2 linked regions of the Homo sapiens genome follow. The protein of the gene in region 1 interacts with the protein of each later gene in a biochemical or structural test. Each region holds a gene or a part of one and is shown in the gene's direction. Other genes may lie near its edges.

Region 1 (4,786 bases):
CCCACCCATTGTGCACTGCAGGTGGGGACCAGCCCAGGACCCTCTCCCTTGAGAGAACCGCTCCCTTGGGGCTCAGACAGTTGTGTTAGACGGGACCCTGGGAACGTACAGGGGAGGTGAAGAGGGAGAGAAGGAGGAGGTGGATGTGGAAGATAAAGGGGGGCGTGAAGCAGATTAAGAAAAGAAAGGGGATAAGGATGAAAAGATGGGAACGAAAGATGAAAAGGCAGGCCAGGAGCGGTGGCTCATGCCTGTAAATCCTAGCACTTTGGGAGGCCAAGGCGGGTGGATCACTTGAGTTCAGGAGTCTGAGAACAGCTTGGCCAACATACAAACCTTGTCTCTACTAAACATACAAAAATTAGCCGGGTGTCGTGGCGGGCACCTGTAATCCCAGCTACTCAGGAGGCTGAGGCAGGAGAATCACTTGAACCCGGGAGGCAGAGGTTGCAGTGAGCTGAGGTCGCACCACTGCACTCCAGCCTGGGTGACTCTGTCTCGATTAAAAAAAAAAGGAAAAAAAGAAAGATGAAAAGGTAAAGGCAGAGAAGGTTGAATGCAGAAGAGAAGGGAGAAAGGATGAAGCCACAGGATGGGGATGTGGCCACAGATTCTGAGAAACACTGGAGACACTTCCCTGTGCTGGAGTGCAGGGCCTCCCCCATCAACTGCTTCCCTGATATTTATTTTATTTTATTTATTTTATTTTATTTTATTATTTTATTTTATTTTATTTGAGATGGAGTCTCTCCCTGTCGCCCAGGGTGGAGTGCAATGGCGCAATCTCAGCTCACTGCAACCTCTGCCTCCCGAGTTCAAGCAATTCTCCTGTCTCAGCCTCCCGAGTAGCTGGGATTACAGCTGCTCACCACCACACCCAGCTAATTTTTGTATTTTTAGTAGAGATGGGGTTTCACCATGTTGGCCAGGCTGGTCTCGAACTCCTGACCTCGTGATCCGTCTGCCTCTGCCTCCCAAAGTGCTGAGATGACAGGCGTGAGCCACCGCACCTGACCCTTTCCTGATATTTATGCTGAAGTCCCGTAGGTCAGATTTCACCTAACGGTAACTATTAGGGAGATGAGGAAGAGTAACAGCCCCTGAGACTGGGGCTCTGGTTTCAGTCACAGTGAACATTTACACAGTTCTACTGCTCCTCATGACAGTCTCATGGCAAAAGGGTGTCCTCCCCATTTTATTTTATTTTATTTTATTTATTTATTTGTTTGTTTATTTTGGAGGCAGAGTTTCGCTCTTGTTGCCCAGGCTGGAGTGCAGTGGCATGATCTCGGCTCACTGCAACCTCTGCCTCCTGGGTTCAAGCAATTCTCCTGCCTCAGCCTCCTGAGTAGCTGGGATTACAGGCATGTGCCACCACGCCCGGCTAATTTTGTATTTTTAGTAGACACGGGGTTTCTCCATGTTGGTCAGGCTGGTCTCAAACTCCCAACCTCAAGTGATCCGACCACCTCGGCCTCCCAAAGTGCTGGGATTACAGGCGTGAACCACTGTGCCCGGCAATGTCCTCCCCATTTTAGAGCTGAGTGGATGTCATCACATCATTCCATTAGTGTGCATATCCAGAAGCATATCTAGATCAGCCAAAGCAACAGAGACACTGAAGAGATTAGTAGCTTCCAGGCCCTGGAGGGTGACAGGCAATAGGGAGAGACGGCCTAATGGGCGTGGTGTCTGCTTTAGGGGTGATGAAAGTGTTTTGCAAGTAGATAGAGGTGGGGGCTGCACAGCGTTGTGAGTGTGACAAATTGCTCACGTTCAAATAGCTATTTTTTTTTGTGGAGACAGAGTCTCGCTATGTCACCCAGGCTGGAGTGCAACGGTGCGATCTCCGCTCACTGCAACCTCCACCTCCCAAGTTCAAGCAATTCTCCTGCCTCAGCCTCTTGAGTAGCTGGGAATACAGGTGCCTGCCACCCCGCCTGGCTAATTTTGGTATTTTTAGTGGAGATGAGGTTTCTTCATGTTGGCCAGGCTGGTCTCCAACGCCTGACCTCCGGTGATCCGCCTGCTTCAGCCTCCCAAAGTGCTGGGATTACAGGCGTGAGCCAGTGCGCCCAGCTTAAAATAGCTAATTTATTTATTTATTTATTTTTGTGGGGGACGGAATCTTGCTCTGTCGCCCAGGCTGGGAGTGCAGTGATGTGATCTCGGCTCACTGCAATCTCCGCCTCCCGGGTTCAAGTGATTCCCTTGCCTCAGCCTCTCGAGTAGCTGGGACTACAGGCGCCCGCCACCACACCCGGGTAATTTTTTTTTTTTTTTGGTACTTTAGTAGAGACGGGGTTTCACCATATTGGCCAGGATGGTCTCAATCTCCTGACCTCGTGATCCACCCACCTCAGCCTCCCAAAGTGCTGGGATTACAGGCGTGAGCCACTGTGCCCAGCCTAAAATAGCTAATTTTTTCACTGGGCACAGTAGCTCATGCCTGTAATCCCAGCACTTTGGGGGGCTGAGGTGGGAGGATCACTTGAGTCCAGGAGTTTGAGACCAGCCTGGGCAACATGGCAAGACCCCGTCTCTATTAAAAAGTTAATAAGTTAGTCAGATGCAGTGGTGCATGCCTGTGATCCAAGCTACTCAGGAGGCTGAGACAGGAGGATCACTTGAGCCCAGGAGGTCAAGGGTGCAGTGAGCCGAGATCATGCCACTGCACTTCAGCCTTCGTGACAGAGAGAGATCCTGTCTCAAACAAAACAAAAGACTAATTTTTGTGTTTAAAGGAATTACTAAATGATTGGCTGGAGAGTTCCTCTTCCTGTATTTGAACCCCGGCTCTGCCACTTATTAGCTGAGTGGCCTGGGGAATGGGACTTCACCTCACTCAGCCTCCATTTCCCCATTTGTACAATGGAGCTAGTACATCCGACTTCTTAGGTTTGGGAGGAGTGAAGAAGGCCCATCAGGCACTTAGAACAGAGCCTAACAGATGGAAGGAACTCCAGGCAGTTTTGTTGTTGTTGTTGTTGTTGTTTTTGAGATGGGAGTTTTGCTCTTGTCGCCCAGGCTGGAGTGCAGTGGTGTGATCTTGGCTCACTGCAACCTCCACCTCCTGGGTTCAAGCGATTCTTCGCCTCAGCCTCCCAAGTAGCTGGGATTACAGGCATGCGCCACCATACCCGGCTAATTTTTGCATTTTTAGAAGAGACGGTTTTGCCAGGTTGGCCAGGCTGGTCTGGAACTCCTGACCTTGGGTGATCCACCGGCCTCAGCCTCCCAAAGTGCTGGGATTACAGGTGTGAGCAGGCATAGTTATTGTCATCATTCAAACACAGATCCCTCCAATCAGCCATGACCCCGGACCCTCACACTCCTGCCCCTTGGTCTGACCCTTCCCTTGTTCTGCCTAGTGCTGGCGTGGGTCGCACAGGAACCCTCATTGCCCTGGACGTCCTGCTCCGGCAGCTGCAGTCCGAGGGTCTCCTTGGGCCCTTCAGCTTTGTAAGGAAGATGAGAGAGAGTCGGCCGTTGATGGTGCAGACTGAGGTGAGGCAGTCCCTCAGCAACACAGGACGGGAGGCAGTGGGACGAGGGACCCTGGGGCTCCACGCAGCTCAGACCTGGGGGGACGCCTCTCACTCCCGTGCCTGCTTCCCAGGCTCAGTACGTATTCCTGCATCAGTGCATCCTGCGGTTCCTCCAACAGTCAGCCCAGGCCCCAGCCGAGAAGGAAGTCCCGTATGAGGATGTCGAAAACCTCATCTACGAGAACGTGGCCGCCATCCAGGCCCACAAGTTGGAGGTCTAAGTGACGAGGGGGCTGGGTCGGCAGCCCAGGCATCCTCAAGCTCTGGACACCCACTTGAGCCCAGATTCCTGGAAGAGCAGAGGGCTGGGCTCCCAGACTCCTGGGTGCTGTGGGAGGAGGGGGCTGGTATCCCAAACTCTGGTTTCCCCAGGAGAGAGTGGTCTGGTGGGCTTCAGATGAGTCCTATGGGAGCTGGGGATCTGGATTCCTGGTTCCCTGAAGGAGGAGAGGGATGATAGCTTGGATTCCCTAGGTCTTTCCAGGATGCAGAAAGAAACAGGCTGGGGCCTGGATTCTGAGGCAGGAAGGAATTTGGGTCTGGAGTTCTGGCTACTTGAGGACCAAAGGCAGGAAGGATCCTGCCTTGATTTTACTTCAGAAACCAAATCAGTCTTCTATAATCTGGGGTCGGAGGGAGTCCCTGTGCCCAAGGTCTCTCTGCACCCCACCATCCACATGTATTTTTCCTTCTATCCCATAATTTATTAAATCACTGTTCTCCCCAGAGACAGTTGTCCCATGGATTTCTGGGTCTGGAAATAATATTGGATTGGGAGTAGGGATGGGTTCCTGGTATCTAGGGATCGAGGCGAACGTCCAGGAGGGGACTAGAGGGACCCACACATTTGCACATGAAAAAATGTAGGTTTGGGTGGTTGAGTCTCTCAGAGAAGGCAGTGTCCAGACGTCTGTGTCCAGGGTCTGGGCAGTATGGACAGGGCTCGCTGGAGCTAGGTGCTTGGGGACTTGCCTTCTGAGCTTTTCTTTTACTCTTCTCTGTTGTTGTTGTTGTTGTTTTGTTCTGTTTTTGTTTTTGTTTTTGAGACATGGTCTTGCTCTGTTGCCCAGACTGGAGTGCAGTGGCTCACTGCAGCCTTGACCTCCTGGGCCCAGGTGATCTTCCCACCTCAGCCTCTAGAGTAGCTGCCATCACAAGTGCGCACCACCACGCTGGCTCATTTTTGTAGAGACGGGATTTTGCTATGTTGCCCAGGCTGGTCTCCAGCTCCTGGGCTC
Region 2 (7,031 bases), on another chromosome or scaffold:
CGACTCCCTGCAGGACTATCCCTTTGAGGACTGGCAGCTGCCTGGCAAGAACCTGCTCCAGCTCTGCCCCCAAAGCCTCGAGGCTCTGGCTGTGCGGTCTCTGGGACACCAGGAGCTCATCCTGGGCGGGGTGGAACAGCTCCAGGCCCTGGTGAGTGAATGCTGGTCACACTGGCTGCAGCTTCCACCAACCTGGGGGGTGTGATGGGGGGCTGGCTGCTGCCAGGGAGGTGACTTGCCCTCTTTCTGGCACAGAGCTCCAGGCTACAGACAGAGAACCTGCAAAGCCTGACAGAGGGACTTCTGGGGGCAACCCATGACTTCCAGAGCATAGTCCAAGGCTGCCTGGGGGACTGTGCCAAGACCCCTATTGATGTCCTCTGTGCAGCTGTGGAGCTGTTGCATGAAGCTGACGCCCTCCTCTTCTGGCTCAGCAGGTACCCGGGTTGGGGTGACGAGTGAGGGACTATTGTCATCCTTGGCCTCCTTCAGGGCGTGGGAGAGAAAAACAGATCTTGGCTCTTGTTCAGATATGGTGAGCCAGGCGTGGTGGCTTAGGTCTGTAATCCCAGCACTTTGGGAGGCCGAAGCGGGCAGATCACTTGAGGTCAGGAGTTGGAGACCAGCCTGGCCAACATGGTGAAACCCCATCTTTACCAAAAATATACAAAATTAGCCAGGTGTGGTGGTGCGCACCTGTAATCCCAGCTACTGGGGAGGCTGAGGCAGGAGAATCACTCAAACCTGGGAGGTGGAAGTTCCAGTGAGCCGAGATCATGCCACTGTACTCCAGCCTGGGCGACAGAGTGAGACTCCCTCTCAAAAAAAAAAAAAAAAAAAAAAAAGATATGGTGGAGCAGGGCAGAGGGATTAATCCACCTGTGCAGGGGCACTGGGATGCCAGAGTTCCCACCCCACCCTCCAGCTTGTAATAATCGATCTCATCAACAACCACTGAATGGAGAGCCTCCCCAACCCTGTGCACTGGCTGCTGCTTGTCCTACAGACCCCACCTCAAATGTCATCTCGGGGAAGCCTTCCCTGTTGTACACTCTCCAAGCTATACTATTAATAAATAATAAATAATAACTTATTATAAACTCATTATCCAATGTTTCATGATACTCATTACAGCCAAAGTTAAATTGATATTGATGTATGATGTCTTTACTGTCTGTTTCCCCAGTGCCTAGAACAGGGCTTGGCATGTGGTAGGCACATGACAAATAAGTCCTGTGCTAATCTCTTTAGATGTCTCAATCATCTCCTTTACTCTAAACCAAAACCCATCAGAGCAGGTATTATCCCCAAGTCTCTGAGGTGAGTAATTGGTGAGTAATTGGCTCTGAGTGGTTAAGCATAGTCCCTTAACCACTGTGCTATTCTTCCCCTGCCAGGTACCTCTTCTCCCACTTAAATGATTTCTCAGCATGCCAGGAGATCCGAGACTTGTTGGAGGAGCTGAGCCAGGTCTTGCATGAGGTAGGAGAACCAAGGGCCAGGCTTGGCCCATGCCCTAGAGACCAAGCTGGGCTAGAGCTTTTTATAACCTGTGAATCAGCCCAGGATCGAGTATGAGGATTGAGACGGGCGAGAAAGGAGGAGAGGAGGCCCTGCCACTGGGTATGGGACAATGGGGCCTGGGGTCCCCTAGCTGGCAGGGGAATTTTGACACTCAGGACAGGGAAGGAGGGGAGGGCACGTGTGGTGACTTCTGGGGGCCTGGTATCAGGGAAACGAGCCCTCTGGTTAAAACGCTGAGGCCCTGTGGTTCTGGGCAGGGGGCCAGTGTAGGGAAGGCAGGGAGGGACTGTACGGAATCCCACCCTGCCCCCAGGAGAAGGCAGTCCCCTTATGGCCCTTGCTCAGGGGAGGCCCCTGCTCTCTCATTCTACTTCCAGGATGGTCCAGCGGCTGAGAAGGAGGGCACAGTCCTGAGGATCGTGAGTCTGTGGGGTGGGAAGAGAGTGGGGGTAGGGGCGATCGGGCTCAGGCTACATAGCCCGCTCCCCTCCCCCAGTGCAGCCACGTGGCTGGGATCTGCCACAACATCCTGGTCTGCTGCCCCAAGGAGCTGCTGGAACAGAAGGCCGTGCTCGAGCAGGTGCAGCTGGACAGTCCATTGGTGAGCCCTGCCCTCCCACCTCTCACTTCTGACCCCTTGGCAGCCTTGTCTGGGCCCTGAAATAGGGTCCAGGATCCCACAGAACCCTGTGCTGCCATGGCTGGAAAGCCTTTTTTGTACAGATGCTAAAATGGAGGCCCAGAGGATTGGCCAGGGTCTCCCGTTGCTCTGCACCTCCCCAGTCCTGAGGGGCCACGCGGGTGTGGCCTCAGGTAGTGTGTTCCAGCCTTGGGATGGAGACGGGGCAGGGGCTTGGGGGCAGTTAGGAGAAAGGGAGAGGATGTGACCTTTCTTGGTTTAATCTTTGACCAGTGGGGAAGACCAGAGCCCTATCCCTGCCCTGTCCCTGCTTGTCCCTTTAGGAATGTTGCTGAGAAGCTGGTACCTCAGAAATCAGGGTCTCCAGCTTCCCTCTGGCTCTTAGCAGAGGAGAAGGCAGAGGCCCACAGGAGTAGCAAGTCCAAAGTCATACAGCAAGTCTGGGCAGGACCAGCTTGGGGTCAGCTCTTGCCACAGTTCCACCCACCATAGAGTCCTGGTGTCTGGCGGGGGTCCTGCCTATTGGCCCTGTTGCCCCCCAGCCCCCGGTGACTATAGCCTCTGCCTCTGCAGGGCCTAGAAATTCACACCACCAGCAATTGCCAGCACTTTGTGTCCCAAGTGGACACCCAGGTGAGAGCCCCACACCCTTCTCAGCCGCCCATCCCCGAGGCCTCTCACCTGCAAGCCAGGCCAACCTCAGGCCCCATTCCCCACGTCAGGTTCCCACTGACTCCCGACTGCAGATCCAGCCTGGAGACGAGGTTGTCCAGATCAACGAGCAGGTGGTGGTGCGTGAGGAGAGGGACATGGTAGGAGGTGAAGGGGTCACCGAGTGGAACCCAAGTCTGGTGGGTGGGGAGGCAACCAAGGGTTCTGACCAGGGTTGTGGGAGCTGCCTTCCAGGAGATGAGCCAGCTAAGTCTGGTGAGAGCATCCTCTGCAGAGCCCAGGTGATGGGGCCCATGGAAGCCCCCAGGAGGCTGCATGAGTGGGAGGCAGAAGTGGGAGGCTGAGAGAGAGCTCCCAGCACGAGGGTGAGAGTTGGTGGTTGCTTTAGAGCCTCCTGCCCAGGTTGATACCAGCCAGTGTTTCTGTCCCCCAGGTGGGATGGCCCCGTAAGAACATGGTGAGGGAACTGCTGCGGGAGCCAGCCGGACTCAGCTTAGTGCTGAAGAAGATCCCGATACCGGAGACCCCCCCACAGGTACCTTCCCCTGCCGCCCCCCGACCTGCCTTCAGACCCCCCCCTCCACAGGTACCTGCCCCCACCACCCCCACACCTGCCTTCAGACCCCCCCCAACAGGCACCTTCCCCTGCTGCGCCCCCCTAGCTCCCTTCAGACCCCCCCACAGGTACCTGCTCCTGCTGCTCCCCTACCCCTGTTGCCCCCCAACCTGCTTTCAGACCCCTGTCTCCATTGCTTTGTTCCTGGTTGTTCCCCAGACGCCCCCTCAGGTCCTGGACTCCCCGCACCAGAGGAGCCCATCACTGTCTCTGGCCCCACTGTCTCCCAGGTAACAGGCTCTGTCCAGGTGTGTCTTGGTGGGGAGACCGTGGGCTCATCTCATCCCCCTTGCCCTCCCCAGGGCCCCATCTGAAGACGTCTTTGCCTTTGACCTGTCTTCAAACCCCAGTCCCGGACCCAGCCCTGCCTGGACAGGTAGTCTCAAAGCTCCATGGATGCCCCGGACACGGCATCTGGGCACCCAGTTCTGACCCCAAGCCTGGGACTGGGCTCATAGACTTTCCCTCTCTCTCCTCCCTCCCTGACAGACTCTGCCTCCCTTGGCCCTGAGCCCCTGCCCATCCCCCCGGAACCCCCAGCCATACTCCCAGCAGGGGTAGCAGGGACTCCAGGGCTCCCTGAATCCCCTGACAAGGTAAGCTCAGGGGCTTAGCAAGGGGGTGGGTGGGTCTGGACCTAGATCCTTCTCTCACCCTTCTGCTGTCCTTTCAGAGTCCTGTTGGTCGGAAGAAATCAAAAGGTATGAGGTGCGCTGGACTAGGTGGGGGTTCCCCTGTTTGAGGAGCTGTTAAAAATCTTTACATGCTGGGCAAGACCACCCCCATCCTTCCCACACAGCCTCTCCTGGAAACAGCTCTGTTTCTAGGGTCAGACAGAGCTGTGCTCCCAGTCTGGGCCTCTCACCAGACTAGAGGCTAACCTGTTTGCTGTGACTGAGCAAACAGGTTAGCCTCTAGTCTTCAGTTTGCTCATCTCTAAAATAAGAAGGGTCATCCCACCTCAGAGATGACACATGTAGCATTCTGAGCAGAGTGTGGGTTCAGAGATCTCACTTGGGGATGCTTGTGGAAGGCAGGGAGTAGGTTTAGCGGGGGCACCTTGCCAGCCCCTCACTGCCCAGCTTGTGCTGTGCTGCTACAGGCCTGGCGACCCGGCTGAGCCGCCGGCGGGTGTCATGCCGTGAGCTGGGCCGGCCGGACTGTGACGGCTGGCTCCTGTTGCGAAAGGCACCGGGCGGCTTCATGGGCCCGCGCTGGCGCCGCCGCTGGTTTGTGCTCAAGGGACACACGCTCTACTGGTACCGCCAGCCCCAGGTAAGACCCCATACACAAAAACAGGTAGGCAAGTGAGTCACTTCCAGGCCTCGATTCTCATCTCTATTCTATCATCCACTCTTATTCCTGGTCCAAGGCTTTGATGTCCCCATCTGTAAAATGGGGACTTTATTCAGAGAGAAATGAGTTAATATATGTATAAAAGCAGTTTGGAAAAGGTATCATAGGAGGTATAGAGAAAAATCTTTTTTTTTTTTTTTTTGGAGACAAAGTCTCACTCTGTTGCCCAGGCCGGAGTGCAGTGGCATCATCTCGGCTCACTGCAAGCTCTACCTTCCGGGTTCACGCCATTCTCCTGCCTCAGCCTCCCGAGCAGCTGGAACTACAGGCGCCCGCCACAACGCCCAGCATATTTTTTGTGTTTTTAGTAGAGACAGGGTTTCACCGTGTTAGCCAGGATGGTCTCGATCTCCTGACCTCGTGATCCACCTGCCTCGGCCTCCCAAAGTGCTGGGATTACAGGCGTGAGCCACCACACCCGGCCCTGAAAAATCTGGGCAACATAGCAAGATGGAGTCTTGCTATGTTGCCCAGCCTTGTCTCAAACTCCTGGGCTCAAGCGTTCTGCCTGCTTCAGCCCGCCAGAATGCTGGGATTATAGGCGTGAGCCACCACATCTGGCCGAAAAATCACGTCTATTCTGCCCACTTCTCCTTATCCTTCTGATATTCTGTCCATCCGAATGATGGGCCATTCATTTACTCATTTATTCATTCAGGATTCAGGTGCCTACTGTGAACCCAGCTCTAGGCTGGGCACTATGGACACAGAGAAGAATTGGATGATTTTTGCTTCTCCAGAACTTAGAGGCTAGTAGGGGAGAGGGATGAATACACACTCAAGGACAATGTAGGGACCGTGTGCTAAGATAAAGGGAAAGCCCAAGGGATATGTGGGAGCACAGCAGAGGTGTCCAGTCCATCCTGAGGAGTCCAGATGCCCCCTGACAATGCAATACCTGGCAGTTAGTTGCATGGGAAGGGGAAAGAAAACCAGGAAGAGAAAGCAGCATTCAGAAAGCTCAGGGGTGTGAAGCAGTTTGGTTTGTGTCTACTGAAGGAACAAATGCATGAGCAAGCTCTTCTTGTTTGGTTTTTTGGTTTTTGTTTTTGAGACAGAGTCTTGCTTTGTCACCCAGGCTGGAGGGCAGTGGCATGATCTCAGCTCACTACAGCCTCAGCCTCCCAGGTTCAAGCGATCCTCCTGCCTCAGCCTCCTGAGTAGCTGGGACTACAGGCACATGCCACCATGCCTAGCTAAGTTTTTTGTTTGTTTTGTTTTGTTTGAGACGCAGTCTCGCTCTGTTGCCCAGGCTGGAGTGCAGTGGCGCAATCGCAGCTCATGGCAACCTTTTCCTCCCAGGTTCGAGCAATTCTCCTACTTCAGCCTCCCGAGTAGCTGGGATTACAGGCACCTGCCACCATGCCTGGCTAATTTTTTGTATTTTTAGTAGAGATGGGGTTTCACCATGTTGGCCAGGCTGGTCTCGAACTCCTGACCTCATGATCTGCCCGCCTCAGCCTCCCAAAGTGCTGGGATTACAGGTGTGAGCCACCACACCCGACCTAAGTTTTTAATTTTTTGTAGAAATGGGCTTTTTTCCCAGTCTGGTCTCAAACTCCTAGGCTCAAATGGTCCTCCTGCCTTGGCCTCCCAAAGTGCTGGGATTACAGGCATGAGCCACCATGCCCGGCCTTCAGGCTCCTCTTTTTTTTTTTTTTGGCTGTTTCTCTGATATCTTTGGCTCCCCTTTCCTGGCTTAGAGGCATCCTTTGGCCACATCTCCTACCCTGACCCCAGATTCCAGCCCTGAGCTCCAGAAACAGAGAGACTTGTTAGAGAGCCCAGGAGATGCCTTCTCCTCTCCACAACTCTCAGGAGCCCGAGGGGTAACTAGGAGCTGACTGGGCCTTGAGGGTATTGGGGTTCCAACCTGACCCTCATGCTGTGATCCCCCCAGGATGAGAAGGCTGAGGGCCTCATCAATGTCTCCAACTATAGTCTGGAAAGTGGACATGATCAGAAGAAGAAATAGTTAAGTCTTGGGGTGTGATGGGCTGGGGGATGGAGACAGAAAGGGAGAGGAAGGGTGATGGGGTAGCAGTGGGAGGTGTGGCAAGTGGCTGGGGCGCCCAGAATCCAGCCTCTCTGGGCTGTGGGTGGGCACGCCCAGGCTGAGTGATGCTCCTCCACTACCTGGCAGTGTGTTTCAGCTCACCCATGATGTGTACAAACCCTTCATCTTCGCTGCTGATACCCTGACAGATCTGAGCATGTGAGTGC

What was found. The genes of interacting proteins can lie anywhere in the genome.
Region 2: the proteins of PTPRH (region 1) and CNKSR1 form a complex in vitro, tested with the Homo sapiens proteins (one study listed by BioGRID).

The regions. Positions count from the first base shown.
Region 1 is NC_000019.10:55,180,737-55,185,522, reverse strand, and holds the end of PTPRH (receptor-type tyrosine-protein phosphatase H isoform 1 precursor), read left to right. Parts: coding exon 1-21; intron 22-3,371; coding exon 3,372-3,507; intron 3,508-3,619; coding exon 3,620-3,769; 3' UTR 3,770-4,276; downstream 4,277-4,786. UniProt on the Homo sapiens protein: Protein phosphatase that may contribute to contact inhibition of cell growth and motility by mediating the dephosphorylation of focal adhesion-associated substrates and thus negatively regulating integrin-promoted signaling processes.
Region 2 is NC_000001.11:26,180,460-26,187,490, forward strand, and holds part of CNKSR1 (connector enhancer of kinase suppressor of ras 1), read left to right. Parts: coding exon 1-151; intron 152-255; coding exon 256-437; intron 438-1,397; coding exon 1,398-1,482; intron 1,483-1,901; coding exon 1,902-1,943; intron 1,944-2,020; coding exon 2,021-2,125; intron 2,126-2,737; coding exon 2,738-2,797; intron 2,798-2,886; coding exon 2,887-2,955; coding exon of another isoform or gene 2,956-2,976; intron 2,977-3,269; coding exon 3,270-3,371; intron 3,372-3,611; coding exon 3,612-3,682; intron 3,683-3,754; coding exon 3,755-3,828; intron 3,829-3,941; coding exon 3,942-4,048; intron 4,049-4,125; coding exon 4,126-4,153; intron 4,154-4,554; coding exon 4,555-4,727; intron 4,728-6,708; coding exon 6,709-6,782; intron 6,783-6,951; coding exon 6,952-7,023; intron 7,024-7,031. UniProt on the Homo sapiens protein: May function as an adapter protein or regulator of Ras signaling pathways.